3 linked regions of the Homo sapiens genome follow. The protein of the gene in region 2 interacts with the protein of the main gene of each other region in a pairwise test. Each region holds a gene or a part of one and is shown on either strand. Other genes may lie near its edges.

Region 1 (9,976 bases), 290 kb from region 2:
TCGGATGTGGATGGCAACATGTTGGGGAAGAGTTTCACAGCAACAGGCAGCAGAAACTCCACGAACGGCACCACCACGAACAGGAGGAACGGCACCAGGCGGAAGAGGTCGGCACAGAACCGGAGCAACTGCCTGCGCGCCTGGCGGGTCAGGGTGTGGCAGTTGAGGATGCGCCAGAGCATGCGTGCTGCGATCTTGGTGTGGATCCGTAGCAGGCGGAAGCCATGGTAGTAGTGCCTCAGCTCGCCCAGCACCCTCTCTGCCCCCGGGACTTCACCACCATCTCTGCGGGGGCGCTGTACACAGGGCCGCCTTCCTCCAGCTTCTTGTTCTTGTCCTTCAAGGACTTGAGGGACTTCTCTACTACCGAGTCATCACCAACAGGGCGCGAAGAGTGCCAGCCGCGGGCAGGAAGGCACCGAGGCCCCAGGACCACAAAACCCACAGAGGTGGAGGTCCATGGCGCTCTCGACACGGTGCGAAGGCACTCGGGCCTCAGAGTCCAACAGCTGAGGTGATCGCCTCTGAAGCACGGGTAGGCAGGGTGGGTGGGAGTGCAGCAGCCAAATGAAACTTTCGGGCAGCTCCTCAACCCCAGGGTGCTGGCAAGCTGAGATGAGCAGGATCCCCCGGACTACCCCGCGGGGCGGTGACCCGAGGCGGCGGCGGGAGGCTGGCGGGCGCCCAGCCGCGGCAGCTCCTCATTAAGATGGACGCCGTGTGTCCGGGCGTGGCGGCCGCTCGGGCCTCCTGCGCTGGCTCCTCCTCCTTCTCCGCGGCGGCCGCGGCTCTTCGCCGTCTCGGTGGCTCCTCAGGCGCCGTCCGTGCGGACGGTTGACGGCAGCGGTTGGCCTCGGACAGGAGGCGCCCAGCTTCGATGTTTTTGGTTTTTAAAAAGGTTTAATCCTTCTTCCGCTTCTTTAAAACAAAGCTTTTATTTCTGCTGCCCCCAGAGCATAACCTTTCTGTGGGATAATGATGTATCATTTATTTATTTTAAAATGACACAGGTTGTTTTTTGTTTTGTTTTGTTTTGAGACGGAGTTTCGCTCCTGTTGCTCGGGCTGGAGTGCAATGGCGTGATCTCGGCTCACTGCAGCCTCCGCCTCCTGGATCCAAGCGATTCTCCTGCCTCAGCTTCCGGAGTAGCTGGACTTACAGGTGCACACCACCACGCCCAGCTATTTTTTTGTATTTTTAGTAGAGACGAGGTTCCACCATGTTGGCCACGCTGGTCTCGAAGGCCTGACCTCTAGTGATCCGCCCGCCGCGGCCTCCCAAAGTGCTGGGATTACAGGCGTGAGCCACCGCGCCCGGCCCCAAGAGTCAGAAAGTTTTTTACGCCAGGCACAGTGGCTCACGCCTGTAATTCCAGCACTTTGGGTGGCTGAGGAGGGAGGATCGCTTGAGCCTAGGAGTTTGAGACCAGCCTGGGCAACATAGTGAAACCCCATCTACACAAAAACTAAAAAAATTTTAAAACATATAAAAATTAGCCGGTGCGGTAATGTGTGCCTGTGTTCCCAGCTACTCAGAAGACTCAGGTAGGAAGATCGCATGAGCCCAGAAGGTTGAGGTTGCGGTGAGCCATGATCGTGCCACTGCACTCCAGCCTGGGTGACAGAGTGAGAGTCAGTCTAAGAAAGAAAAAAAAAATGTAAAGCAAAAACTTACAGTAAGATAAATTATATTGAAGAAGGAAATATAGTTGCCAATTTAGTAGCCTAAGTGCACCATGTTTATGAAGTCCACAGCACAATAACCTCCCAGGCCTTCACATTCACTCACCACTCAGACTCACCCAGAGCAACTTCCAGTCTCACAAGCTCCCTTCCTGGCAAGTGCTTTATACAAGTGTACTGTTTTTTATCTTCTATTTTGTATTTTTACTGTACCTTTTCTATGTTTAAATCCACAAACAACATTGTGTTACCGTTGCCCACAGTATTCAGTGCAGCCCCGTGCTGTGCAGGTCTGTAGCCTAGGAGCCATGGGCTGTGCGTGTAGGTGTGTGAGTGCCCTCTGCGATGTATGCACGGTGACGAAACCGCCTAAGGAAGCATTTCTCAAAAGGCTTCCGATGGTAGGCGGTTGTATGCGCTCAGCGATCGCCAGTCGTGCCCACTCCACAGCGCCTCCTGGCGAGCCGGGCTGCCCCGCGCAGAGCAGCTCCACCTGTCCCTCACCTACGCTCCCGCTAATCCCCGGCGACTTCAAAAGCAGAGGTGCCTCAGGCAGTGTTAGCACCCTGGCAGCGGCAATGCCTGGGGCCGCGCTCACCAGCGCCCCGATCCCGGAGCTGCCGTCTCTCCACGCGGGCGCCAGGCCTCAGGCCTAAGGCCTCTCCCTCCACAAGTGCAGCTCGCTCAGGGACGTTGGGGCACCCTGCTGTGGCTGAGCCCCACAGCCTAAACCAGCGCCAACGAGGATCCTCTCAGCCACAGCGGCCCTGGTGGGAGAGGGGTGGGAGGACCTCAGCAGCCTTCCCCACCTACGACCCCCGCAAAAAGAGAGTCCTTGGAGTTGCCGTGTGGTGAGGGGATGGCCTGTGAGCGCGGCTGTGGTTTCCACGTGGCGTCTGGGATGGGAGAGGGAGTCAGATAAGCACATCTGCCGGCAGCGGCTGAGGAAGCCCGTGGCCAACAACTGTGGTCTACCCAGGTTAGATGCCTCCGTTAGATGCAGAAACAGAAACCACGGCCCACGAAACTTTGTTTTGGTGCAGGAGAGGGGCTCTCATGATGATCTTTAAATCTATTTTAGGGCCGGGCGCGATGGCTCACGCACTTCAGGAGGCCGAGGCGGGTGGATCACGAGGTCAGGAGATCGAGACCATCCTGGTGAACACGGTGAAACCCCGTCTCTACTAAAAATACAAAAAAAATTAGCCGGGGAGGTGGCGGGCGCCTGTAGTCCCAGCTACTCCGGAGGCTGAGGCAGGAGAATGGCGTGAACCCGGGAGGCAGAGCTTGCAGTGAGCCGAGATCGCGCCACTGCACTCCAGCCTGGGCTACAGAGCAAGACTCCATTAAAAAAAAAAAAAAGTAAAGTAGAAGTTCCTCTTCAAAGACTTTCCTCCCCATCTAATTAGGAATAAATAGTAACTTCTCTTAGAAGCAAAATTTATTCAAAGACCTGTGCTAACATTCTTATATATCTGCTAGCCATAATAAAAAAAATCAATGTACTTTATGTTCTTAGCTCCCACAATTTAGCCTAAATATTTGCCCTGGTGTGCCTATACTGGTCCAAGCAAGCATTAGGTCATAGCCTGTTCCTCTTCCTTATTTGAAGGTGTTTTTACCTTTCTCAGCATTCCACAAGTTACTTCCTTCTTCCTTGAACTCCTGAACTTGTGATCCGCCTGCCTCAGCCTCCCAAAGTGCTGGGATTACATGCGTGAGCCACTGTGCCCGGCTGTTGATGTTTTTTGAGTTAGGGTCTCACTCTGTCATCCAGGCTGGAGTGTAGAAACATGATCATAGCTTACTACAGCCTTGAACTCCTGGGCTCAAGTGATCCTCCTACCTCAGCCTCCAGAGTTGCTAAGACTACAGGTGCACACCCCTACACCTGGCTCATTTTTTTTTAAGACATGGGGTCTTGCCATGTTGCCCAGGCTGCTCTTGAACTCCTGGGACCAAGTGGTCCTCCCACCTCAGCCTCCCGTGAGGCCTCACTCAAAGTGCTGGGATTACCGGGATGAGCCACCACACCCAGCCGTATTTTGTTACAGCACCCAGAACGGACTAAGCCAGTGGGAGACACACATGTGCAGTCTTTCAGCCTGTTACTTGGCTGCCTGAGAGTGGGTCCTGGGCCTAGAACATCTCCTTACCAAGAGATAAGGGGTCCCCCCAGTTTGTGCTGGGTGTAGTGCCTCGTGTGGAGGTCTCTGTTTCCCAATGTGTGCCCCTTTGTTCTGCTCAGGCGTGTGCTTCACGTGGCACCTAGACAGCCCCACTGTTAGGTCAGGACCCCTCTAGGAGGGACCTGCTGGCCCCGGCCTGACAGCCACATGGGCAGATGGTGCTCTGGCCCGGTCTCTGGTCTGTGAGCAAAACCTTGCTCCATTCATTGTTCGACCGTGCTGTGTTTCCCTTGGCGGCTCCAATACCAAGATCCAGAGGCAGAAAGTGGTCAAACTCAGTAGCCCTGATCATACGAACACATGCTACTCACTTAGCAGTTCTTACTTTTGTTCTTTTGTGATTTACCCATTACCCCTGGATTTCTCTCATGTGTCTGCGTGTCCCCACCCCTGATTTTAATCTCTCCAGCCACACAGAGATCCGCTTGGCTCCCAACCGAGCCGGGCCCCTCCCGTCGCCTTGAGGCCTGCGCAACAGCAGGTCTAGCTGCAGGGGAGCCCTCAGCATTTCCTTCTGGGCCCGCCCAGAATCCTGGGTTCACTGAGGGAAGATGATCGGGGCAGCAGGACTTTCTCAACACACGCAGCATCTGGTGCGGGTGACACAGGAGGATGGGTCTTAACTGCGAGGCTGGGAAAGGACAGGAGGGGCTGGGGTGAGGCCCAGAGGCACACAGCAAACACACAGCTGCACTGACTGCCCTCGCCCAGCACTGAGCCCCAGGAAGCTTGGGGAATCTGTGGGGCAGGCGGGGAGTTTGGAGGCCGGGCTTCCTGGGAGCGCTGGGGACAACCTCACACAGTCCTTGGATGGGGCATCCTTGAGGCCGTCCCAGAAGCGGCACGCATGCCCTGGGGTGCAGGAGCACGGAGCTGGGGGCCCCGGGCTCACCTGCGATGGTTCTTTCTGGGACCTTGGACTCTTCCCATCTTCCTCCTCACCGAAACTCCAGTCCTGGGGTTCGACCGAGTCCAGAGATACCAGAACTGTGCGGGAGAAAGGGATCGTGAGAGGGGCCTGTTCTTCCCAGAGCCCCCAATTCTCCAGGCCTTCTGGGGAGGGCAGACTTTCCCCGAACATCCCTGCAGCACCCCTGAGGCGCAGGCAAGAGTGGCTGCAGGGCTGTCATTCTGTCCCTCCATGTGGCTGCTGGGCAGGAACCTGTGGTGACACCGAGGGCCGCTGAAGACAAGTACCCTCTTCACTCATACTCCACACCCCTGTGCGCCTCCAGAAGCCCACGAGGACACACACTGCAGCACTGACTAACTAGGGAGGCCCGAGCACTGTGAGCCCTCTGCTCCCCAAGCCCCCCGGGGCTGTGTGCACAGAGTGCACAGAGGACGACTGCTGAAGCAGGGTTCAGGACACCATTGACAGAAGGGTCAAGACGTGGGAACCAGGCCAGGCGTGGTGGCTCACACCAGTAATCCCAGCACTTTGGGAGGCTGAGGCAGGAGGACTGCTTGAGCCCAAGAGTTTGAGAGCAGCCTGGGCAACACAGCAAGACCCCCCCCTATTTATTTTTTAATTAAAAAAAGAAAAATTCAAGATCACGGCCACCTCTGGGGTGTCAGGCAGAGCGGGGGACAACAGGACTAGGAGACGTGCATGGGGGTTCAGCTGATTCCACTGGTTGTTCCTTTTTTTTTTTTTTTTTTTTTTGAGACGGAGTCTCGCTCTGTCGCCCAGGCTGCAGTGCAGTGGCGTGATCTTGGCTCACTGCAAGCTCCGCCTCCTGGGTTCAAGCGATTCTCCTGCCTCAGCTTCCTGAGTAGCTGGGATATAATATAGGCACGCGCCACCACGCCCGGCTAATTTTTGTATTTTTAGTAGAGACGGAGTTTCACCATGTTGGCCAGGCTAGTCTCGAACTCCTGCCTTGTGATCCGCCTGCCTTGGCCTCCCAAAGTGCTGAGATTACAAAGCATTTCCTAGGTTGGGCTTTGATAAGGGTGGGTGGCCGGTGCAGGGCTGTTCATTATACTTGCTCTACTGTTTCATAGGCTCAAAATATGGAATGTAGAAAGCAGACCACCGCTATGGAAGACAGATAGAGAGCCCTTTGCTCAAAAACGTTGAATTTTGAGAGTGACCATGGAACATTAAAACTAGCAAGGGTGGCTCTGGGCTGGGATGGCTGTGAGGTCCACAGAGCGCCAGAAGCCAGTGCTCTTGGGCCCTCTACCCCAGGATCAGAGAGTTCAAAGGGCCAATTCATCTGGCTTCTGCCTTGCAGCTTACAGGGCTACCCTTGAGCCTCTGGAAAGCTCAGCTGTCACAGCTTTCCTAAGTGTGGCACCGGCTGCCCTGGGGCAGTAAGGGGACCCTGGACCCTGTGTTCTGCAAACTGCTTATCACTGTTGGTCTACGGAAATGCTGTAGTGGGAGGGTGCAAAGGGAGGGCCTGTTCCTCTCCCTTGCTCCACCCCTCTTTTCTGTGAGCTCTGATGCAACCCTTCTCACTCCCAGCCTTTGCTCCTGCAGCGTGGCTGCCTGGCACCCTCCTTGCTGGGGCCCTGCTGGGGAAGCCCTCCCGAGGCCACAGTGCCACGACTGCTCTCACCATCCGTGGCTGCCTCTTTTGGCCTCCCAGTGTCCAATCCCTGCACTTTTGTCACTAGGAAAGAAAGAGCCCCACTCATGGGACTGGGCCCTGGGTGGATGGAATCTCGACGTGGGGTCACAGGGGCAAAGATGCAGAAGGACAAAGCCCTGTCAGGGGAGAGGGGAGCTGAGAGAGGAGACAGGGAGGGAGCCCAGTTTCAACCCCAAATTTCCCAGCTCCCAGAGTCGGGATGCAGACCTAAGCGTCTCTCCCCACCATCAGCCAGCGATGGGGCCTGCGCCCTGTGAAGGCTTAAGGATCTCTAGGATTCCTGAGTGTTGCAGGAGGCGCTGCAGGTGGCTGGGAGGAAGTGGCGAGGCAGCGTCCTTCCCAGAGAGCAGCCGTGAGGAGCAGCAGACACAAAGCCACAGGACAGATGGACGCATGGGAAATGGAGGGATCTTTAATCACCGACTGAGTGAGAAATTCGAGGCAGATGAGGCGTGCAGCACATTTATATGTAAAAATAATTAAAAACACAGCCGCGGGGCAGGAGAGGTTTGCTGGTCGGGAGGGGCCGGGCAGGGGTGGGAGCGATGTGGGCGGGAAGGAGGGCAGTTCGGTCCTCGGAGACGTCAGGCCCCCTGGCCCGGCCCGGGGCAGGAAGCCTGCGCCTCTCACCTTCCTGCTGGCACATCTGTGTGAGGTCCTCCACCAGGCTGGCGGCCTCCCTGCAGCTTCGGGGGCCCTGTGACTGCACCCAGGTCCGCATCTTGCTGGGCAGCGCGCCCAGGAACTGCTCCAGCACCAGCAGCTCCAGCATCTGCTCCTTGGAGCGCGCCTCGGGCCTCAGCCACTGGCGGCACAGCGTCCAGAGCTGGCCCAGCGCGAGGTGCGGCCCGCTCGCCACGTGGTACTGGAACTGCCGGAAGCGCAGACGCTGGGCTTCGGTGTCCCTGGGGCTTGCTGGCCCAGGGTCTGCGTCCTGCTCACTCGGGGTTGGGGTCTGGGGGCGTCTGGGGGAGGCAGGGGCTTTGGGCCGTGGAAGCATTTCTCTGGCCACAGTGCCCCTCTGAGGGGTGTGTGTGGACTGGATCCCGAGTCCCAGTGGCTCCGGACAGAGCCGGTGTGGCAGGCGGACAGAATCAGCAATCAGGGGCCTGCAGAGAGGGGCAGGGACAGAGGGGTCACATCAGATGGTGGCCCTCTGTACTCAGGATGCCCCTCGGCTCCTTACTTCCTTGTTCTGACCTCCAGCACCCCAAGGAACCAACCTGACCTCTTCCCACCTTCTGACCTAATCTTCCACATGCCTCTCACAGGCTACTTTGCACTGAGTTCAAGCCACTGGCTGCCCCAGGACCTTTGCACCTGCCATCCCACCCCAGCCCCTCCCCTTCCCACCCCAGCTCCTCCCCTCGCAGATGTCCTGGCCATCATCCTTATGGCACTGTCTTCATAACCTCCATGACTTTCTGAACACAACTTTTCCCCTTACTTAGTGTCTATCTCCCTCTCATTTAGTCATTCAACACACATTGACTGACGAGCTGCGGGAACAAGAATGCCTGCCCCGTGGTGTGGCCAGCACTGCCCAGTGAAGTTCCTACAGGGATGTAAAGATTCTCTACCCATGCAACCACCTACGTGTGGCTAGGAGCACCTGAAATAGGAACTGAATTTTAAATTTAAATTCCATTTAAATGGAAGCAGCCAGGTGGGCTACATAATAATGGATGACACCACCACCAGCAGCAGGTCTACCCATGGTGTTATCTTTGCTGTCTTCCTGACTTTCCTACCAGGTCCAAGCTGGGGGTGGAGACCAGGAAGAGGGCAAGGGAGACTGGAGACTCTGAAAAGAGAGGGAAAGTGGGAAGAGTAATTTTAAAATAACCTTTTGTGGCCGGGTGCCGTGGCTCACACCTGTAATCCCAGCACTTTGGGAGGCCCGGGTGGGTGGATCACCTGAAGTCAGCAGTTCAAGACCAGCCTGACCGACATGGCGAAACCCCGTCTACTAAAAATACAAAAATTAGCCGGCGTGGTGGTGCACACCTCTAATCCCAGCTACGTGGGAGGCTGAGGCAGGAGAATTGCTCCAACCCAGGAAACAGAGGTTGCAGTAAGCCAAGATCGCACCACTGTACTCCAGCCTGAGTGACAGCGTGAGATTCCATCCCAAAAAAAATAAATAACCAAAAATGAGTTGGGCGTGGTGGCACGCACCTGTAATCCCAGCTACTCGGGAGGCTGAGACAGGAGAAATGCTTGAACCCAGGAGGCGGAGATTGCAGTGAGCTGAGACTGTGCCACTGCACTCCAGCCTGAGCGACAGAGTAAGACTCTGTCTCAAAAAAAAAAAAAAAAAAGAAAAGAAAAAAAAGAAGTTACCTTTTGTACATTTTCCAAGCCGACTATGGTGAACATATAACTGAAGAAAACATTAAAAGTTGTAAAAATAAAAATAAGCAGGGAGGTTTCGTTTGTTTGTCTTTAACAATTGTACTCTGGACTGATCCGCTGGTGAGAATATAAATTGGCACGACCTTTCTGGAAAGCACTGTGGCCATTTATATATCAAGAACACTTGGTAGACTGCGTGCAAGATGCGAGATTCAGGCACCAAGATTCACTACAAAAGTGCCCAACAGTTGAACGTGGTGGGATCAACTACCTCCCCCATCATGTGATGGGAGTATTCAACCGTGCCCAGTACACAACACTATGACATGACCACGGGGAGTAGACACATGATGTACAGATGACATGAGGCACAGGGAACGTGGGATGCAGGATGATGCGTGAGTGTCATAGAAAGGGAGTCCTGGGAAGACGCCCATGGGGGGCGGCCAAGTGCTTTGTGCTGTTCATACTTCTCTGAATCTCCTCCAAATGGTGTCGGGCTCCCATGTGACCTTCATCAACATGGAAAAACAAAACAAAACAAGACATCTTTAGGAAGGATTTTTGACCATATGGGAAATGCTTATGACAAGTGAAAAGGAGGGATTCCATGGGATTTTTCCCTCTTCATCCTCTGCTGCATTTTTCATACACTCTGCAGTTCTCGTGCATCTGGTTTTACAATCCAGGAGAAAGGAGAGGTGCAGGGTGGCAGAAAGGCAACTCACGGGGACTGTGCCCAGCCAGCCATCTTCGAGTCAGCGTACCCGGCCACCTGCACCCTGATTGGGAAACTACCAGCTTGGTCTTCCCTGCCAAGGCCACAGGCAAAAATGCTCTCTTATGTTGTATTCACACTTTTATATATGTAGTTTTGAATAAGAAAAAAGGGCCTATTTTGAAGCTCCACAGGTTCAAGAAATCCCTTTGCCCTGGGGCCTCAGACCTTATACTCTCTCAGGTGCTCATGGCAGCTCACCCTGGAGACTCTAGGGAGGGGGGCTGTAGCCCCTCAGCATCCTCCAGGGTCCTGGGCTGAGGTCTGTGGGAGGAGATGCTAAGTTTATCAGGGATGAGGGTAAAGAGGAGGTCTTAGCAGAAGGCACCAGAGGTCCATGGGTGTGTCTGGGGTCTATATGGGGGCTGATGT
Region 2 (10,343 bases):
GAGTATATGTCCTCACAAAACTTTATACATAAATGTGCATAACAGCATTACTCATAACAGCAAAAAAGGAGAAACAATCCAAATGTCCACCTGATGAATGGATAAAATGCTGTATATACCTATAATGGAACACTATTCACCATAAACAGAAATGAAGTACTGATTAATGCTACAACATGGATGAACCTTGAAAACATGATGCTAAGTAAAAGAAGAAAGACACGGCAGGGCACGGTGGCTCACACCTGTGATCCCAGCACTTTGGGAGGCCGAGGTGGGTAGATCACCTGAGGTCAGGAGTTCAAGACCAGCCTGGCCAACACAGTGAAACCCCGTCTCTACTAAAAAATACAAAAATTAGCTGGGTGTGGTGGCAGGCACCTGTAATCCCAACTACTCAGGAGGCTGAGGCAGGAGAATCTCTTGAACTTGGGAGGCAGAGGTTGCAGTGAGCCGAGAGTACACCACTGCACTACAGCCTTGGCGACAGAGGTAGACTCCATCTCAAAAAAAAAAAAAAAAAAAAAAAGCATATTAGTGTTTGTCAGAGGCTGAAGAGAGACAAAAATGAGAGTGGTTGCTAATAGGTTTGGGAATTTCTTTTGGGGATGATAAAAATGTTCTGGAGGCCAGGCGCGGTGGCTCACGCCTGTAATCCCAGCACTCTGGGAGACCGAGGCGAGTAGATCACGAGGTCAGGAGTTCAAGACCAGCCTGACCAATATGGAGAAACCCCATCTATACTAAAAATACAAAATCAGCCGGGCGTGGTGGTGCATGCCTGTAATCCCAGCTACTTGGGAGGCTGAGGCAGAAGAAACCCTTTAACCTGGAAGGTGGAGGCTGCAGTAAGCCGAGATTCTGCCATTGCACTCCAGCCTGGGCAACAAGAGTGAAACTCCATCTCAAAAAATAAAATAAAATAAAAATACAGCTTTTAAAAAAATAATGTTGGCCAGGCACGGTGGCTCATGCCTGTAATCCCAACACTTTGGGAGGCCAAGCTGGGCCGATCACAAGGTCAAGAGATCGAGACCATCCTGGCCAACATGATTAAACCCCGTCTCTATTAAAAATACAAAAAAATTAGCTGGGCGTGGTGGCGTGTGCCTGTAGTCCCAGCTACTTAGGAGGCTGAGGCAGGAGAATCTCTTGAACCCGGGAGGTGGAGATTGCAGTGAGCCGAGATCACGCCACTGCACTCCAGCCTGGCAACAGAGACTCCATCTCAAAATAATAATAATAATAATAATAATAATAATAATAATAATAATAATAACGTCAGCTGGACGCGGTGGCTCACACCTGTAATCCCAGCACTTTGGGAGGCTGAGGCAGGTGGATCACAAGGTCAGGAATTCAAGACCAGCCTGGCCAGCATGGCGAAACCCCATCTCTACTAAAAATATGAAAACTAGACAGGCGTGGCAGCGGGGGCCTGTAATCCCAGCTACTTGGGAGGCTGAGACAGGAGAATTGCTTGAACCCGGGAGGTGGAGGTTGCAGTGAGCAGAGATTGTGCCACTGCACTCCAGCCTGGCCGACAGAGTGAGATTCTGTCTCAAAAAAAAAAAAAAAAAAAGTGCATTTGATAATTGTTGGGTGTTCTCTCCCTTATTTAAGTCAGGCCTCTACACAAAAGACGCCTTATCAGTAAGTCTCTGTGCTTCTACACTGCTTTATTTGCTCTTTACCACCTGATGTGTGATACACGTATGTGGTTACTTGTTTATTATTTACTTGTCCCTGTTGGAGTATCAGCACATTAAGGGCAGGGGTTTTTGTTTAGGTCTTTGCTTTATCCCCAGTGTCTACAGCATTGCTGGGCACATACATCAATAATAATACTTTTGTTCAGCACAGCCCCATTAGGTGCCTACTCTGTGCCCAGCACTGTACTAGGAATGCAAATACGGGGAAGGCATGGGTGCTGGGCTCAATGGCCTCAACGGAAGGACAGCGACCAACACATGATAAGATAATTATGATGATGGATATGGGTATAGTGTGCAACAGGAATAAAAGAAAATGGGAACAGACAGTCAGTGGGAACCTACCGGCTACCAGGCCACACTAGCCTTTGGCATCTGTTATCCCATTCAAGCCTTAGCTCCACCCTGTGAGTCAGTATTACCACTCCCATTTTCCAAGTTGGGGAAAGTCAGCTGCTAGAGTCATCTGGTCAGTAGGAACAAAGCTAGTGTTTGAGCTCAGGCTATCTGCGATCTTTCCTCCACACTCAAAGCCTTTCCAAATTCTAGAACTGTGAGCACTGAATGCTGGTCAGGGACAGCAAAAAACTACTTTCATGTACTATTGGTGAGGGCAATCAATTAGAATATCTTTGGCAAACAATTTGGCAGTATGTTGTAAGAGCTTTAAAATGACTGTGCTCTCTGCCTCAATATTAATTCTACTTCTCAGAATCTAGCCCCATTTCTAGATGGGGGTGCTACCGACATTCAGAGGGAGATAATACTTTCTTTTTGAAAAAATTCTTTTTTTCTCCAGACGGAGTCTTGCTTTGTCGCCCAGGCTGGAGTGCAGTGGCGCAATCTTGGCTCACTGCAAGCTCTGCCTCCTGGGTTCACGCCATTCTCCTGCCTCAGCCTCCCGAGTAGCTGGGACTACAGGCACCCACCACCACACCCAGCTATTTTTTTTTGTACTTTTAGTAGAGACGGGGTTTCACCGTATTAGCCACGATGGTCTCGATCTCCTGACCTCATGTTCCGCCCACCTCAGCCTCCCAAATTGCTGGGATTACAGGCATGAGCCACTGCGCCTGGCCGCATGTAGGCAATGCTTAACTTTTTAAGAAACTGCCAGGCTGTTTTGCAAATTGGCTATACCATTTTGCATTCCCACCAGTTGTGGATGAGGGTTCCAATTTCTCTACATCCTTACCAAGGTATTTTATACTATGGTAGTTCCCCCTTATCTGCAGGGGATGTGTTCCAAGACCCTCCAGTGGATGCCTGAAACCATGGATATTACTGAACCTTATATATTCTATATTTTTTTCTTATTATATACCCTTGATAAAGTTCATAAGTTAGGCATAGTAAGAAATTAACAACAATGACTAATAAAATAGAACAATTATAACAATACACTGTAATAAAAGCTATATTAATGTGGTCTTTCTCTCTCTCTCAAAATATTTTATTGTACTATATTCACCAAAACTGAAGATGAGGGGTGACTACTGTATTACTTTTCTTGACATTCTCTACTTCCCACAGTGAATTTGTTTTCTCTTATAGTCAGGAAGAATACCCTAAATTAAGTGTAACCTCTCCTAGGAGACCTCGACACTTTGCTTTGGCCACATACTACTCCTTACTCAAAGACTTAGCCTCTCCCTCTCCCATCCACGACTCCCACAGTTTTAAGTATTTGGAGTTCTTTTTCCTTTCCTTCAATGTCAGCCAGGACGCTCAGTGTGCCTGGAGTCTCTGCTCAAGGAAGTCACCCTGGACAGAGATGCAGGAGGCCTGAGAAAGAGCAATGGCCTTGGGCACAGGAAGAAGAGAACGTTACTCTAAAACAAGACCCCAATCCTGAAACCTTTTGGTGACCGCTGGTGACCTCTGGTGGCCTCTGGCCAAGCTGCGTTTAAGCCCCTTCGCCGCACTGTAAAGTTCTCCTGGGTCTCTTGTGGCCTTTCTAAGCCCCTTGTCGCCCCTGCTGCTCTCGAGTTCTGAAATCCGTCTCTGACGGATTCCTCTGGGCTCTCTAGGCCTCATCTTAGCTGCCACTTTCCTCAGGTGTCATCCCAGATACCTGGTACTAGTCTAAGTCCTCTTCCCAGAGTGCCCTGGGTAACTCTTTGCTAGTTCTGTACTGTTTCCTCAGAGAGGCTGGGCTGTCCTGGAGCCACAGCACACAGGACTTGCCCTATAGCAGGTTCACAATAAGCAGGCATTAAGCAAATGGAATGACCAGTAAAGGCTGAGCATGGTTACCCAAGAATGTAGGGAATCATGAGGGGAAGGAGGAGCAAGGGTGGCAGGGATGACAATAGATGCTGCAACAGCTTCCAAGTTCTCTTTTGCACCCCTGGAACACCTGTTCTGGAGAAATCCCTCATGACGGTCTCTGAAATACATGTATGTGAAACTTCCTCAGCCTCCTCAGCCAACCTCAACTCCTATCAGGTTGAGGTTCCCCATCCACAGCTGCTTTACCAACCAAGGAGGGTGGTTCTTTTCATTTCTCACACATGGATTATACCAAGCCTGATAATGGTACCTACCTCAGAGGGTTGCTATGAGATTATGTGAGGTGATTTATTATAAGTGTCCAGCACAGGCCTGGTGCACAGTAAACATGCAGTAGATGTATGGATACCATAGCCCCCTGCTACACGTAAGCAAACACTGGGGGACATATCCATAAGCCCAGCTGAATGACCACTAGTCACTCAGTTTCAGCTGCAGACATGGCAAAGCACAAATCCTCTCTCATATGCTTGGTAAACTGTTTGTGGATCACCCAAGTTTTAGTCTCCCTGATAAAAATCTCAGTCAATCAGATATTAACACATATTATCTCAGGTACAGTCTGTCAGCCACAGCCTTCAAAATACCCAGACACAGGAAATATCTCAATGTCACCTATAATCAGTCAAATAAACACAGGCCTGGCCAGGCATGGTGGCTCATGCCTATAATCCCAGCACTTTGGGAGGCCTAGGCAGGTGGATCACCTGAGGTCAGGAGTTCCGGGCCAGCCTAACCAACATGGTGAAAGCCCGTCTCTACCAAAAATACAAAAATTAGCCAAGTGTGGTGGCCGGTGCCTGTAATCCCAGCTACTCGGGAGGCTGACGCAGGATAATCGCTTGAACCCGGGAGATGGAGGTTGCAGTGAGCCGAGATTGCGCCACTGCACTCCAGCCTGGGCAACAGAGCAAGACTCCGTCTCAAAAATAAACACAGGCCCTCGCAGCATTTCCATCACACAGTATTATTCTGATCACAGTCATTCATAATCTTAGTCACCATCTCAAGGACACACAAAGAAAATCAGTCACACTTGAAATCCCACCGTCACACGCTCACCCTCTCACAGTATCTCACAACCCACGTAGGAAGTCTCAAACGGCAACCATCTCTGTCAGTCACACACTCCATGGTTAGTGTTACACTCAACCTATCAGAATCACACACTCCAACCCGTCAGATACACACACCCAAGAGGTGTCAGACACAGAACCGCCTATCAGACACATAAACGGGTCCGCCCCACACCCTCCCAGGCCACTGGTCCTACATTTTATCTGTTATCTGTCCGCCCGCTCCACACTTCGTCCGCCCCACACCCGGTCAATCAGTCCATCCGACACACACTCCGTCAGTCCGACACATTCTCCGTCGGTCCGTCCGGCACTCAGTGTGTCATTCCGCACCACATTCGGTCCGTGAGTCTGTCCACACCGGGTCCGTCAGTCCGTGCACACACGGTCCGTCCACGCCTGGTCCGTCAGTCCGTCACATCCTCTGCGCGTGTGTCCGGCACTCGCAGTCCGTCTACTCACGTCCCCTAGTCAGCCTCTCACTCTCTACCCGCTGGGCGGTACCCCGCATCTCGCTCTGGCCGCCCCAGAGGTTCGCGGCTTCTGGACCTGCTGTGCCCCTCTCCAGCCTGGATCAGGACGGAGAACACCCCCGAAACCCACCTCACCAGCACAGCCGGCGGACCCTTCCGGAGGTGGCCGCAGAGACTAGCCAACTTGCGCGCCCGCCGACCCGGACCACAGCTCCCAGCACACCTCAAGGGCCCACGCCCGCCAGGACTACAATTCCCGGCGTCCTCCGGAAGCTCAAGTGTACCCAGGCGCGGTGCCTGCTGGGAATTGTAGTTGACGTTGGTCAGCACGGAGGCCACAGGATCCCAGCCCGGCCTTTGTGGGACTGAGGTGGCGCTGAGTGGGAGAGCAGCAGGCGATGCGCGAAAGGCGGGACTTGGAGGTGAGGGAAATGTGAAGGCTGAGGGTGAGAGTGCCTGTGTGAGGCTGAGGGTGCCTGTGTGAGGGTGAGGGTGAGGGCGGCTGTGTGAGGGCTGAGGGCTGAGGGTGCCTGTGTGAGAGCTGAGGGTGCCTGTGTGAGGCTGAGGGTGCCTGTGTGAGGCTGAGGGTGAGGGCGGCTGTGTGAGGGCTGAGGGTGCCTGTGTGAGAGCTGAGGGTGCCTGTGTGAGGCTGAGGGTGAGGGCGGCTGTGTGAGGCTGAGGGTGGCTTTGGGAGGGCTGAGGGTGTTTGTGTGAGGGGTGAGGGGTAAGGGTGAGGCAAGAAAATCGGGTCTGGAGGCAGGGAACCTAAGGACTTCCTAGAAGTAAATCAAATGGAAACTGCAGCTATGGTAGGAAATATCCTCTCCATTTATGCAGGGCGTACATGGAGTAAATCACTTTGTAACTTTACTTCGTCCTCTTCATTTACATAGGGCATATACCAAGTAACCAATGGAAACCTCTAGAGGGTATTTAAACCCCAGAAAATTCTGTAACCGGGCTCTTGAGCCCCTATGCTCCGGCCTGCTCCCATACAGTGGAGTGTACTTTCATTTTCAATACATCTCTGCTTTTGTTGCTTCATTCTTTTCTTTGTGCATTTTGTCCAATTATTTGTTCAAGATGCCAAGAACCTGGACACCCTCCACCAGTAACAAGGGTACCTGGGTGAGAGGTGAGGGTGCCCATGTTAGGAGTGAGGGGAGAGGGTGCCTGTCTGAGGGCTTGTGGGTGTGAGTGTCTGTGTAAGTACTGAAGGTGCCTTTGTGAGAGGTGAGCGGTGTGGTTGCCTATGTCAGGGTGTGTATTGAGTGTAGCTATGTGTGGCTCTCTGTGAACACATGTAATCATTTTTATAAATGTGTATCATTTTTTACTGAATTTGAGCTGGGCGTCTGTCTGCATGAGTCACTCTGTGACCAGGTTTGTGGGTTGTTCTGTGTGCTTACTCTGCGTGTGTGTGACCTGTGATTTAATCATCATATGTGATAATCATGCAGCTGTGTTTGCCTGCACCAGGTGTAATTGTGTCTGAGACAGATACTTAGAGGTAATGGGGTGGACCTGACACAGTATAAAGGCCCTAGACTGTGTGTGATGTTGTTACGGTGACTGTGAATGGTAGTGTGATTGTGTGATTCAGTCGATGCCTGGACTGTGTGTGAGAATGTATCTTCTCTGTGTGTGTGTGTATGTGTAAGAGACATTGAGCAGGAGACTCTGGCTTGGGGCCCGATACATAGAGGTTGGTGGCCCAGCCTATGTTCAGGTGAGGCCTTTTTGAGGCAGGGTGTGTATGATTGCTTGGTGGTGCTGGTGGTGTTTCTTGGCCCCAGCCTGTGCTCACATCCCCTATTATTCTCAGACTTTGCCCTGCAGACTGCTAGCAGCTGGAATGAGCATATATTCTTTTCCTTCCACAGATAAATACTGAGCACCCACAACAGGCAGCCAGCACCACTGCAGATTGGATACTGCAATGATGATAAGCATGGCCTGCCTTTATGGAGGTGATGTTATTGTGTGGGGAGGCAGATGGTAAACAAAGAAGTCATTTTTCTGAGAAGTTGGTATTTAAGCTGAGGCCTGAATAGAGCGAAGAACTCAGGGAGAGTAAGTTCAAGGTAGATGGAACACAAATGCCCACGTCAGGAGGAGGCATGGATGAGGAAGACTGGCTGGGGTGGATTAAGGGAAGGAGATGGGAGGGGACAAGGACAGAAAAGGGAGGCCTGTGGGGGCAGATCTTGAAGGGCTTGTGAGCCACATACGACTTTGTTTATTTATTTTTTGTAGAGACAATGTCTCACTGTGTTGCCTAGGCTGCTTTTGAACTCCTGGCCTCAAGCAATCCTCCTGCCTCAGCCTGTCAAAGTGCTGGGATTACAGGCGTGAGCCACCACACTTGGCTCACATACAGACTTTGATTTCCACCTTGAGAGAAGTGGGAGCTATGGGAGGCCTTTGAGCAGAGGAGGGCTGTGCTGTGACTTAGCTCTTCATAGGAATTCTCTGGCCGCTGCAGGAGAAGACTGTCAAGATGAGAGTGGAGTCAGGGAGACCAAAGATGCAATTGCTTTGAGAGTACTGGCACCTGAGGCAGGTAGCTCAGATCAGGGTGGTCAAACGGTGGTGTGGTAGAGATGCTAACAGGTGGTCAGATCTGGATCTGTTTTGAAGGTGTATCAGGGGTGTCCACTCTTTTGGCTTCCCTGGGCCACATTAGAAGAATTGTCTTGGGCCACACATAAAATATACTAATGATGGCGGATGAGTTTATTAAAAATCGCAAAAAAAATCTCATAATGTTTTAAGAAAGTTTATGAATTTGTGTTGGGCTGCATTCAAAGCTGTCCTGGGCCACATACAGCCCGTGGGCTGTGGGTTGGACAAGTTTGGTATAGATGATAGGGTTGATGGGTTGAACTACAGTGTCCAAGGGGTGAGCAAGGCTGACCCAGGTGCCTGATAGTGCCCTCTGATTATGGGTGGGAGGAGGGTGTATTAGTTTGCTAGGACTGCCATAACAAAATACCACAGATTTGGTGGCTTAAACGATAGTTTAAAGTTTATTTTCTGGGCCAGGCACGGTGGTTCATGCCTGTAATCCCAGCACTTTGGGAGGCTGAGGTGGGCGGATCATGAGGTCAGGAGATCGAGACCATCCTGGCTAACAAGGTGAAACCCCGTCTCTACTAAAAATACAAAATAAATAATAAATAAATAAAATAAAATCAGCCGGGCGTGGTGGCAGGTGCCTGTAATCCCAGCTACTAGGGAGGCTGAGGCAGGAGAATGGCGTGAACCCGGGAGGTGGAGTTTGCAGAGATCCGAGATCACGCCACTGCACTCCAGCCTGGGCGACAGAGCGAGATTCCATCTCAAAAAAAAAAAAATTTTTTTTATTTTCTGACAGATCTGGAGGCTGGAAGTCCCCAGATCAAGGTGTCAACAGGTTTGGTTTCTCTTGAGGCCTCTCTCCTTGGCTTGTAGATGGCTGCCTTCTCACTGTGTCCTCACATGGCATTTCCTCTGTTTGCACATGCCCCTACTGTCTCTCTCTCCTTATAAGGACACCAGTCATGTTGGATTAGGACCCATCCATATCTTCTTTAACCTTAATTACTTATTTAAAGGTCTTATCTTCAAATACAGTCATATTCTGAGGTATACTGGGGGTTAGGACTTCAATATATGAATTTTGGGGGGACACAATTCAGTCCATAACGGGTGAATGGACAGTGGCATCAGTGTGGGGATCCTTAGACCCCTTTTCAGGGAGATTCTAAGGAGGAAACGAGCGAGATAGGGCAGCAGCTGGAGGGGACTCTGGTGTCAGGGAGAGGAAGAAGAGCCCTGGTTGACATTTAATGGGTATAGGGTGACTTGGAAAGCCAATGGAATCTCTCCTCATTGGCTCCTTTTCTGCCTAGATTGTGAGTCTGTGCTGTTAGGCCTGAGAGGGGTCCTGCCCTTTACATAGCCGAGGCCAGGGTATCCTTGATGCCTTGTACAGGGCTAGGTACTAAGAGTTGGCTGAGGAATGACTGAATGACTGGCAGACCAACAATGTTCCCTTGCCTGGAGCTGCATAGCTGGATTCTCCTCATTCATCTCCTGCACCCACCATGGCACCTGTAGTCAATACTGCAGACCTTGGAAGGCCCTTTCCCTTGGCCACCCCTTTTGTGCTTGTGCTCTGTTCAATCAGCATTCTGGCCTCTGGACTCTCCTGAGTGGATGCTCCTCCTTTCCTCTCTCCCTTTGTCTCTTTCTTATCCTCTCCCCAGATTTCAAACCTTATCTTTTTCAGGGAGTATTCACTTTAATTTGGCAATTGTATCAGCTATTGCTCTGTAACAAACAGCTACGACACCTCTGTGGCCCACAGCAAAAAAAGTGCTTATTTTTGTCATGTGTCTGAGGGTTGGCTGATCTGGGCTGGGCTCAGCTGGGCTTGGCTCTAGGCTGCAGTTTGGGTCCAGGTCTGCTGTATTTGTCTTGCAAGGCTCACAGGAAAAATTCTTCTCATCCTGATGGCAGAGACACAATGGGCTTTAGGCCTGGACTCAGGACTAGCATGCTATCACTTCCACTTAGATTCTGTTGGCCAAATCAAGTCACATGGCCACACCCAAACTCAAGGAATGGGTGGGGACATCAAATTTGCCTTTACTGGGAAGAACCATAAATATGGCCGTGGGTGTATATATGCAAGGAGCAGTGAAGAATTGAGCTAGTAATTCAATCCACTACAATAATACTTTTGGTTTCTTTTCCTTCCATGTAGAAAGCCAACAAAATCATTTGTGACCCTGGTTTCTTTCAGT
Region 3 (9,976 bases), on a different chromosome or scaffold from region 2:
CTCCCAGGTTCAAGCAATTCTCCTGCCTCAGCCTCCCGAGTAGCTGGGACTACAGGCACGTGCCACCATGCCCAACTAATTTTTGTATTTTTAGTAGAGACAGGGTTTCACTGTGTTGGCCAGGCTGGTCTCAAACTCCTGACCTCGTGATCCACTCACCTCGGCCTCCCAAAGTGCTGGGATTACAAGCATGAGCCACTGCACCCAACTGAAAAGTATTATTTTACACAAAGTTTTTAATTTTTAGACATGTGCATTTAATTTATTAGTGTTCTGTTGGTAAACTAGTCAAGTTTTCAAAGACATTTAAGAAGCATGAAGAGTATATTTTAATATAATTTACACTACATACATTTCTTTATGTAAAGTGTTTATCATCCAGGGTGTCTTCAGTGTCTGCATGTATTCAACACATCCATCTTAAAGTTCCCTGACATCCATAACTTCAGTGACATTCCTTGATCACACTGAGTCTTTCTACTGTTGACATCTAAACTCTAAGAACCACAGTGCATTAAGCCCAATATTGTGAGGGAAGGAAATGGGAGTGAGAAATGGGAAAAAAGAGTGAGCTAAGAAAGTGGGGTGGGGGTGAGGGAGGGGGACTAGAAGGAGGGCAGGGGGCTAGACCTTTGATACCATGGTTAAGCTATTGCACCTAACCTGAAATAGCCTACCTTCACACTTTTTGTTATATGAATATCTTTATTATAGGCACTATGAATTACCTGTTAGTTGCCTGATACTAAATGTACCTACAGGCACAATAGCAGATTCCTATTCTCCAGTTGCATAACTCTGCTCTAAGTTACTGAACATCATATCTCTTCCTTTAGTGGAGCCTGGCTCAGTCTTCACTAATCTTAATGCAAAATTTCACTTCTCCTCTTGAGCTTTAAGACATTTCTACTTTAGCTGAGATTTAGCTCCCAGTTTCTCTAAGTTAAACAAATGTCAATAAGGAAAATTCACACCCCCTTCTCAGCTCTTTGGCCAAGTAGCCCACCTTGCTTACTCTCTCTTTTCTCAAGTCTCTGAGGACCAAATGGCCTCACCAGAAGCCAACCCTCTGCTTGTGATTTGTTCCCTCTCTTTCTGCAATCCTGAGAAGCCTCGGAATGTTGGGCATTCCCGAGGCTTCTCCACCTTGTTCCATTTCTTCAGAAGTTTCTTGCTTTGCATAGGAGTATCTGTTACAAGTTCATTCATTCCCACAACCAGCACTTATGAAGCACACACCACTGTCATTCATTTCTACTTCATCAGCTAACTTTCCTTTTGACCTATACCTTGTTCAGGTCTCCCAATGGCGGTTGAAAATACAGGTTAATTTTCCCTTATCTGAAATGCTTGGGGTCAGAAGATTTTTGAATTTTGGATTTTTTTCAGATTTTGGAATATTTGCATTATACCAGTTGGGCATCCCTAACCAAAGATCCAAAATCCAAAATGCTCCAATGAGCATTTCCTTTGAGCATCATGCTGGTGCTCAAACAGCTCAGATTTTGGAACATTTCAGATTTGGAATGCTCAACCTGTACCCTGCTTGTCCTCTTCCACTCTGACATTTCTTTCTTAACTGTCATGGCAGCTTCATCTGTAGCCCTCATTCTTGTTAAATTATCTGCCTTCTAGCTTCTCCACAGCTCCATAAAAATGTAAGGGAGCCCAGGGAAGGGTAATCAAGCAGGACAGACTGGATCAGGATAGGCTTCTTGGAGGAAACTGAGTATCAACTGAAGGTTTTGTATATTTATTGCATATTGAAAATTTTGAATAGGTCACTTTCTTGGCATGGACCTCCTATGATCACAGAAGTGAGTGGCAGTTGTCATATCTTATTCCAGAGAAGCAGGCCTTTGACCAATTGGTTTCTCTGATTCCATTCCAATTTCTTATATCTGCAGGATTTGATTCACTGAGGACCATGGACACTCACCTGTTGGGCTTTCCTGAGGCTTCTCCACTTTGTTCCATTTCTTCAGAAGTTTCTTGCTTTGCTTTAAACAATCTATCTTTAGTTACAATTTCTTCAGCTAAAATATAACATTAATGATTTAAATGTCATCTGTTATGTGAATTTTGAAAAAAAAAAAAAAAAAAAAAAAAAAAAACTTCCAGGGTAGGGAATAGATGTTCCAAATCAAACAAAAAACAAATCATATTGGTGTTTCAAGGGTGCACAGTTTCAGCAATCCTACAAAATGTGGCATGGTATGGGAAAATGATAAGAAAGGTTAATTAAGGCACCAAAGCCCAGCTGCAGAGAGGGCCCAACAGGGCAGAGCACATTTCAAGAAAATTAGGCTGGGTGCTTTGGGAGGCCAAGGTGGAAGGACTGCTTCAGGCCAGGAGTTCAAGACCAGCCTGGGCAACATAGCGAGACTCCGTGTCTACAAAAAATTACCTGGGTGTAGCCCCAGCTTTTTAGAAGGCTGAGGTGGGAGGATCAGTTGAGCCCAGGAGTTTGAGGCTGCAGTGAACTATCATCGTGCCACTATGCTCCAGCATGGGCAACAAAGCGAGACCCCATCTTTAAAAAAACTAAAAAAAATAAAATAAACATGAACTGTCGTGTTCTTAGAGAGTGAAGATGACCTCCTCTGAGGTAAAGACAAGGTCAGACAGAGGTGTTCATGGGGCTTCCAAGTATGAAGGGATATCTGAAAGACAAGTTATATGGAATCCTTGACAGGGAAGAAAAAAGGGGAAAAGGATACAAAGGAGTCACTGAAGGAATCAGGGAACTAGAAGAGATGATCAGAGAAGATAACCACAACAATCAGTAAACTGATTAGTAACAGAAGAAAATGTGATTGGGAAGGATGCAAAGTGATAAGGGCTAGAAGTCTGGAGGCAGAGGCCAGAAGAAGGGAAAGGAAGGGTGTGGGTCTGTAGGAAACGTGGCCTCCCAAGGGCCAAGCCAGGGTGAGTGACAGGAAAATGAGAGTCCAGACAGGGGTCCAGCCAGAGGCCTGGCCTTACTCATCGGACTGAGGCTCATAACTGTCTCCTGAGCTGAGTTCCCACAGAGGTTCCTCCGAGTCAGACTCAGATGTGACCACTTCTCTGCAGCAACGGCCTGGGCTGTTTCTTCCTCAGTCTTCACCAATGTCTAAAAAGACAAAAAAAGAAAATAGCCTCTTTGTTTTCACATGGTAAGGAATCCAGTTGTGAAGGGTGTTGAATACCACGCTGTAGACCGGTAGTCCCAGCCCCTCAGGGCATTTTGTAAACTTGTGGGAACCTTTCTGGTTATAACAATGAAGTCCACCACCACCTCAAGCCGATGCCATTCAGAGGGTGAGGCCAGAGATGCTAGGCATCTTGAAATATGTGGGACAGTCCCACACTACAAAGAATTCTTCCACATCCTGCAGGACTTTTGAGTGTCCTCCTGAACCAAACCTACAATCAGTATAAATCAGCTACACTGAAACATAGGAAACCTGAAGAGTTTTTATAGGATGATACTGAAAAAAAGTCAGTAATTCAAGAAAGTTAGAGAAGGAAGCTTACATCGATTAAAGACATTGTCACAAAAGTTGACTCACTTGGATTGTTCTACACACTATTTTACAGCATTTTCTATGTATTTGGTTGAACAGCACTTCAATATAATATTGCAGTTATAACAAATGCAATTAAACTGACTACAAATACCTAACAGAGTTTTGAGACTCCTTTTAACAGATTTGGAATCTAATGTAAATGCAGAAATCTCACTGAATTTCATCAACAAAGATTGTTTAAAAACATTTCAAAGCTAGTAATGATATGTAGGCTGGAAAAATCATACACTGAATTTATTTATTTGGGGAACTGTCTGAGATTTTCTATCTCTCTGACACTGTCCCAAAAGGCTACCACATGGTTTCATTAGCCTCTTGATTTTCTCTCATTTTCCAATCTACTTTCTCTTTCTTGTTGCCTGAAAAAGGACACAGTGCCAGTCTTTTAGAGAATGAATATCTGTTTTGACAAGGAGGGGGTTTCAAGACAGAAGATGTTTTCTCTTTAACTCATCATCACCCTATTCCAAACTACAGATAATTATTTTGATAATAAAAGGCAAAGCCCACCTCATTTAAACATAGGCCTACCTCAGAGATATTGCAGGTTCAGTTCCAGACCACCACAATAAGGCAAATATCACAATAAAGCAAGTCACAGAAATTTCTTGGCTTCCGAGTGCATGTGAAAGTCATGTTTACACTATACTATGTAGTCTATTAATCGTACATAAGCATTGTGTCTAAAAAAGTATATATCTTAATTTAAAAATACTTTATTGCTAATACATGCTAATAATCATCTGAGCCTTCAGAGAGTTGTGATCTTTTTGCTGGTAGAGGGGCTTCCTGCGATGTTGAACGATGCTGACTAATCAATGTGGTGGTTGCTGAAGGTTTCGGTGGCTGTGGCAGTTGCTTAAAATAAGACAACAGTAATGTTGGCCACCTTGATTGACTCTTCCTTTCACAAAAGATTTCTGTGTAGCATGCAATGTTGTTTGATAGCATTTTACCCAGAGTAGAACTTCTTTCAAAATTGTAGTCAATCATCTCAAACCTGCTGCTGCTTTATCAACTACGTTTATTTAATATTCTAAATCCTTTGTTGTCATTTCAACAATGCTTCACCAGGAGTAGATTCAATCTCAAACCACTTTCTTTTCTCACCCATAAGAAGTAACTTATCTGTTCAAGTTTTGTCATGAGATTGTAGCAATTCAGTCACATCTTCAGGTTCCACTTCTAATACTAGTCCTTTCCACCACATCTGCAGCTACACTATCCACTGAAGTCCTAAACCTCTCAAAGACAATGATGAGTGTTAGAACCAATTTCTTCCAAACTCCTGTTAATGTTGGTATTTTCACCTCCTCCCTTGAATCACAAATGTTAATGGCATCTAGAATGATGAATCCTTTCCAGAAGGTTTTTAATTTACTTTGCCCAGATCCATCACTATCTATGGAATCACTATCTATGGCAGCTATAGCCTTAAAAAATGTATTTCTCAAATAATAAGACTTGAAAGTCAAAATTACTCCTTGATCCATGGGCTACAGAATGTGTATTGTATTGGCAGGCTTGAAAACATTAATTTCCTTGTACCTCTCCTTCAGAGCTCTTGTGTGACTAGGTGCTCTGTGAATAAGCAGTAATATTTTCAAAGAAATCTTTTTTTCTTTTTTGAGTAGTATGTCTCAACAGTAGGCTTAAAATATTCAGTAAACCATGCTGTAAACAGATGTGCTATCATCCAGGCTTTGTTGTTCCATTTCTAGAGTACAGGCAGAGTAGGTTTAGCATAATTCTTATGGACCCTAGGATTTTCAGAATGATAAATGAGCACTGGCTTCAACTTTAAAATCACCAACTGCGTAAGCCCCTAACAAGTCAGGCTGTCCTTTGAAGCTTTGAAGCCAGGCACTGACTTCTCCTCTCTAGCAATCAAAGTCCTAGATGGCATCTTATTTCAATAAAAGGTGGTTTCATCTTCATTGAAAATCTGTTGTTTAGTGTAGCCACCTTCATTAGTGATTTTAGCTAGATCTGGATAACCTGCTGCAGCATCTGCATCAGCACTTGTTGCTGATGCATTTTATAGAGATGGCTTCTTCCTTACACCTCACGAACCAACCTCTGCTAGCTTCCGATTATTCTTCTGTAGCTTCCTCACCTCTCTCAGCCTTCACAGAATTGAAGAGAGTAAGAGATGTGCTCTGGATTAGCCTTTGGCTCAAGGCAATGCTGTGGCTGGTGTGATCTTCTATCCAAACCACTCAAACTTTCTCCATATCAGCAAAAAGCTTTTTGCTTTCTTATCATTCATATGTTCACCAGAGTAGCACTTTTCATTTCCTTCAAGAACATTTCCTTTGCATTCACCACCTGCCTGTTTGGCACAAGAGGCCTCCTAGCTTTTGGCCTATCTCGGCTTTCAACATGCCTTCCTTACTATACTTAATCACTTCTAGCTTTTTATTGAACCTGAGAGGCATGTGACTCTTCCTTTCACTTGAACACATAGAGGTCACTGTAGTAGTAGTATTATAAATGGCTTCATTTCAATATTATTGTGTCTCAGGACATAGCAAGGACCAAGGAAAGGAAAAGAGATGAGGGAACAGCTGGTCAATGGAGGAGTCAGGACACATACAATGTTTATTGATTAGGTCTGACATTTTAAACGGGCATGGTTTGTGGCACACCAAAACAAATTCAATAGTAACATCAAAAATAACTGATCACAGATCACCATGACAGATATAACAATAAAGTTTGAAACATTTTAAGAATTACCAAAATGTGACACAGAGTGTCACGTTTAAGAATTTAAGAATTACCAAAATGTGACACAAAGTGAGCACATGCTGTAGAAAAATGGTGCTGACAGACTTGTTCCACACAGGGTCATCACAAACTTTCAATACTGCAAAGCACAATAAAGTGAAACACAATGAAGGAAGTGTATCTGTAATATCATACCTCCTTATTTTCTCCCTTTATCAGTCCATAATTTGTTTTGTAACTTATATTGCTTTCCTATGGCTCTTGTAACAAAGTACCACAACCTCAATAGTGGAAAACAACAGAATTGTATTATCTCATGGCTCTGGAGGCTAGAAATCCAAAATCAAGATATCAGTAGGGCCATGTTATCTTTGAAAGCTCTATGGGAGGCCTGGCGTGGTGGCTCATGCCTGTAATCCCAGCACTTTGGGAGGCCAAGGTGGGCACATCACTAGGTCAGGAGATCGAGACCATCCTGGCCAACATGGTGAAACCCCATCTCTACTAAAAATACAAAAATTAGCTGGGCGTGATGGCGCTTGCCTGTAATCTCAGCTACTCGGGAGGCTGAGGCAGGAGAATCACTTGAACCAGGGAGCCAGAGGTTGCAGTGAGCTGAGATCGCGCCACTGCACTCCAGCCTGGCAACAGAGCAAGACTGTCTCAAAAAGAAAGAAAAAGAAAAGAAAAGAAAAGAAAAAAAGCTCCATGGGATAATTTTCCTTGCCTCTCTCCAAGTTTTTAGTGTTTGTCAGCAATTCTTGGTGTTCCTCGGCTTGCAGATGTGTTATACAAATCTTTGCCTCAGTGATCACATGGCATTCTCCCTGTGTGTGTTTTCACTTGGGCATTTTTCTTTCTTTTTTTTCAACCCCTTGGTCAATTTGCAAATATGGACTTCTTATAAGAATATGAGTCATTAGATTAAGGGCTCACCACATGAATTTTTTTTTCTGATTTTTGTGAAGAATGTCATTGGTATTTTGATAGTGATTACACTGAATCTGTAAATTGTTTTGGGAAGTATTGTCATTTTAATAATATAAATTCTTCCAATCCATTAGAATGGAATATCTTTCCAGTGTTTTTGTGTCCTCTTCAATTTGTTCCATGAGAGTTTTAGTTTTCCTTATACAGGTCTTTCACTTCTTTAGTAATTAAATGCTAAATTATAAATTATAAATAAAATACTAAAAAATATAAAATGCCTAGGGAATTTAAACACTAAATTTAACTTAATTTGGTGTTTAAATTTTTAGTATTTAAATTCCCTAAGTATTTTATATTTTTTGTAGCTTTTGTAAATGCGATCATTTTCTTGATTTCTATCTCAGATTGTTCACTATTGAAGTATATAAATGCTACTAATTTTTGAGTGTTGATTTTTTATCCTGCAACTTTACTTAGTTTGTTTATCAGCACTAACAGTTTTTTTGGTGTAGTCTTCAGGTTTTTCGAGGTATAAGATTATATCATCTGCGAACAGACTAACCTGACTTTTTGCTATCCGGTTTGGATGCCATTTATTTCCTTCTCTTGCATAATTGCTCTGGCCAGGACTTCGGGTATTATGTTGAACAACAGTGGTGAGATGGGCATTCTTATCTTGTTCCAGTCCTTAGAGAAAAGGCCTTCAGTTTGATGTTAGCTGTAGGTTTGTCATATATGGCCCTTATTTTGAGGTATGTTCCTTTTATACCAATTTTGACAAGGGTTTTTATCAAAAAGCAATGAATTTTATCAAATGCTTTTCAGCATCTATTGAAATAATCATATGGTGTTTGTTCTTGATTATATTAATGTGATATATCACATTTATTGATTTGCATATGTTGAACCATCCTTGCATCCCTGGAGTGAATCCCACTTGATCATGGTGAATGATCTTTTTAATGTGTTGTTGAATTCAGTTTGCTAGTGTTTCATTGAGAATTTTTGCACCTATGCTCATCAGTGATGTTGGTCTGTAGTTTTCTTTTTATTTTGTATCCTAGTCTAGTTTTGGTATCAGGGCAATGCTGGCCTCCTAGAATGAATTTGGAAGTAGTCCCTCCTCTTCAATTTTTTTTTTTTTTTTTGAAGAATTTGAATAGGATTGGTATTAGTTCTTTTTAAATGTTTGGTAGAATTCAGCAGGGAAGCCAACAGGTCCTGGGCTTTTCTTTGATGGAAGACTTTTTATTACAGATTCTATCTCGTTACTTGTTATTGGTTTGCTGAGGTTTTCTATTTTTTCATGGTCCAATCTTGGTAGTTGGCATGCATCTAGGAATTTATCCATTTCTTCCAGGTTTTCAAATTTATTGTCATAGTTGTTCATAAGTCTCTAATGGTTTCTTTGTATTTCTGAGGTCTCAGCTGTTATGTCTTTTTCATTTCTGATTTTATTCATTTGGGTCTTCTCCTTTTTTGTTTGTCCAGCTAAAGACTTGATTTTGTTTATCTTTTAAAAAAAATCCAACTTCTTGTTTCATTGTTCTTCTGGGTTTTTTTTTTTTTTTTTTGGTCTCAATTTCAGTTATTTCTGTTCTAATCTTTATTTGTTTCCTTCTACTAATTTCAGTTTGGTTTGTTCTTGCTTTTCTAGTTCCTTGAGGTGTATCATTAGGTTGTGCATTTGATGTCTTTTTACTTTTCTGATATAGGTGTTTATTGCTATAAATTTCCTTCTTAGTACTGCTTTTGCAGTATCCCACAAATTTTGATATGTCACATTTTCTATTTTCATTAGTTTCAAGACATTTTTACATTTCCTTCTTAATTTCTTCCCTGACAAATTAGTTGTTCAGAAGCATGCTATTTAATTTCCACGCGTTTGTGTAGTTTCCAAGGTTTTTCTTGTTATTGCTTTCTAGTTTTATTCCACTGTGATTAGAAAAGATACTTGATATGATTTATATTTTTTAAAAATTTGTTCAGATTTGTTTGTGGCCTAAGATATGGTCTATTCTTATGTCCCACGTGCTGATGAAAAGAATGTGCATTCTGTAGCAGTTGGGTTACATGTTCAGTAAATATCAGTTAGGCTTATTAGATCTAGCATGTAGTTTAATTCCATCGTTTCTCTGTTGACTTTCTGTCTGGATGATGTGTCAATTACTGAGAGTGGGGTGTTAAAATCTCCTACTATTATTGTATTGCAGTCTAACTCTCCTTTTAGATCTATTAATGTTTTCCTTATATACCTGGGAGCTCTGGTGTTGCATGCATAGGTATTTATAATTGTTATATACAGCCGGGCATGGTGTCTCACGCCTGTAATCCCAGAACTTTGGGAGGTCAAGGTGGGCAGACTGCTTGAGGCCAGAAGTTCAAGCCAGCCTGGGCAACATGGCAAAAACCCAGGTCTACAAAAAATACAAAAAATTACCCAGGCATGGTGGCACACACCTGTGGTCCCAGCTACTTGGGAGGCTGAGGTGGAAGGATCACTTGAACTCGGGAGGCAGAGGTTGCAGTGAGCTGAGATGATACCACTGCACTCCAGCCAGAGTGAAAGAGTGAGACCCTATCTCAAACAACAACAACAAAAAACCTCTGTGGCTAAGTGATTTTCTCTTATAGTATGCCTTCCTTTGTTGCTATTTTTAGTGAATTTATTATAGGTTTTTGCATTGTAGTTATCATGAGGCTTACAAAGAAGACCTTCAGATATAATAAGTTATTTTAAAGAG

What was found.
Region 1: the proteins of ZSCAN22 (region 2) and ZSCAN1 interact in binary tests that used the Homo sapiens proteins (3 or more experiments, as listed by UniProt).
Region 3: the proteins of ZSCAN22 (region 2) and PGBD1 interact in binary tests that used the Homo sapiens proteins (3 or more experiments, as listed by UniProt).

Annotation. Positions count from the first base shown.
Region 1 is NC_000019.10:58,035,332-58,045,307, reverse strand, and holds part of ZSCAN1 (zinc finger and SCAN domain-containing protein 1), read right to left. Parts: exon of another isoform or gene 9,339-9,976; 5' UTR 9,297-9,338; exon of another isoform or gene 8,826-9,296; coding exon of another isoform or gene 8,815-8,825; intron 7,581-8,814; coding exon of another isoform or gene 7,472-7,580; coding exon 7,102-7,471; intron 4,859-7,101; coding exon 4,764-4,858; intron 869-4,763; exon of another isoform or gene 1-868. UniProt on the Homo sapiens protein: May be involved in transcriptional regulation.
Region 2 is NC_000019.10:58,322,455-58,332,797, reverse strand, and holds the start of ZSCAN22 (zinc finger and SCAN domain-containing protein 22), read right to left. Parts: upstream 5,805-10,343; 5' UTR 5,684-5,804; exon of another isoform or gene 4,259-5,683; intron 1-4,258. UniProt on the Homo sapiens protein: May be involved in transcriptional regulation.
Region 3 is NC_000006.12:28,289,955-28,299,930, reverse strand, and holds part of PGBD1 (piggyBac transposable element-derived protein 1), read right to left. Parts: intron 3,116-9,976; coding exon 2,986-3,115; intron 2,545-2,985; exon of another isoform or gene 2,408-2,544; intron 2,037-2,407; coding exon 1,940-2,036; intron 1-1,939.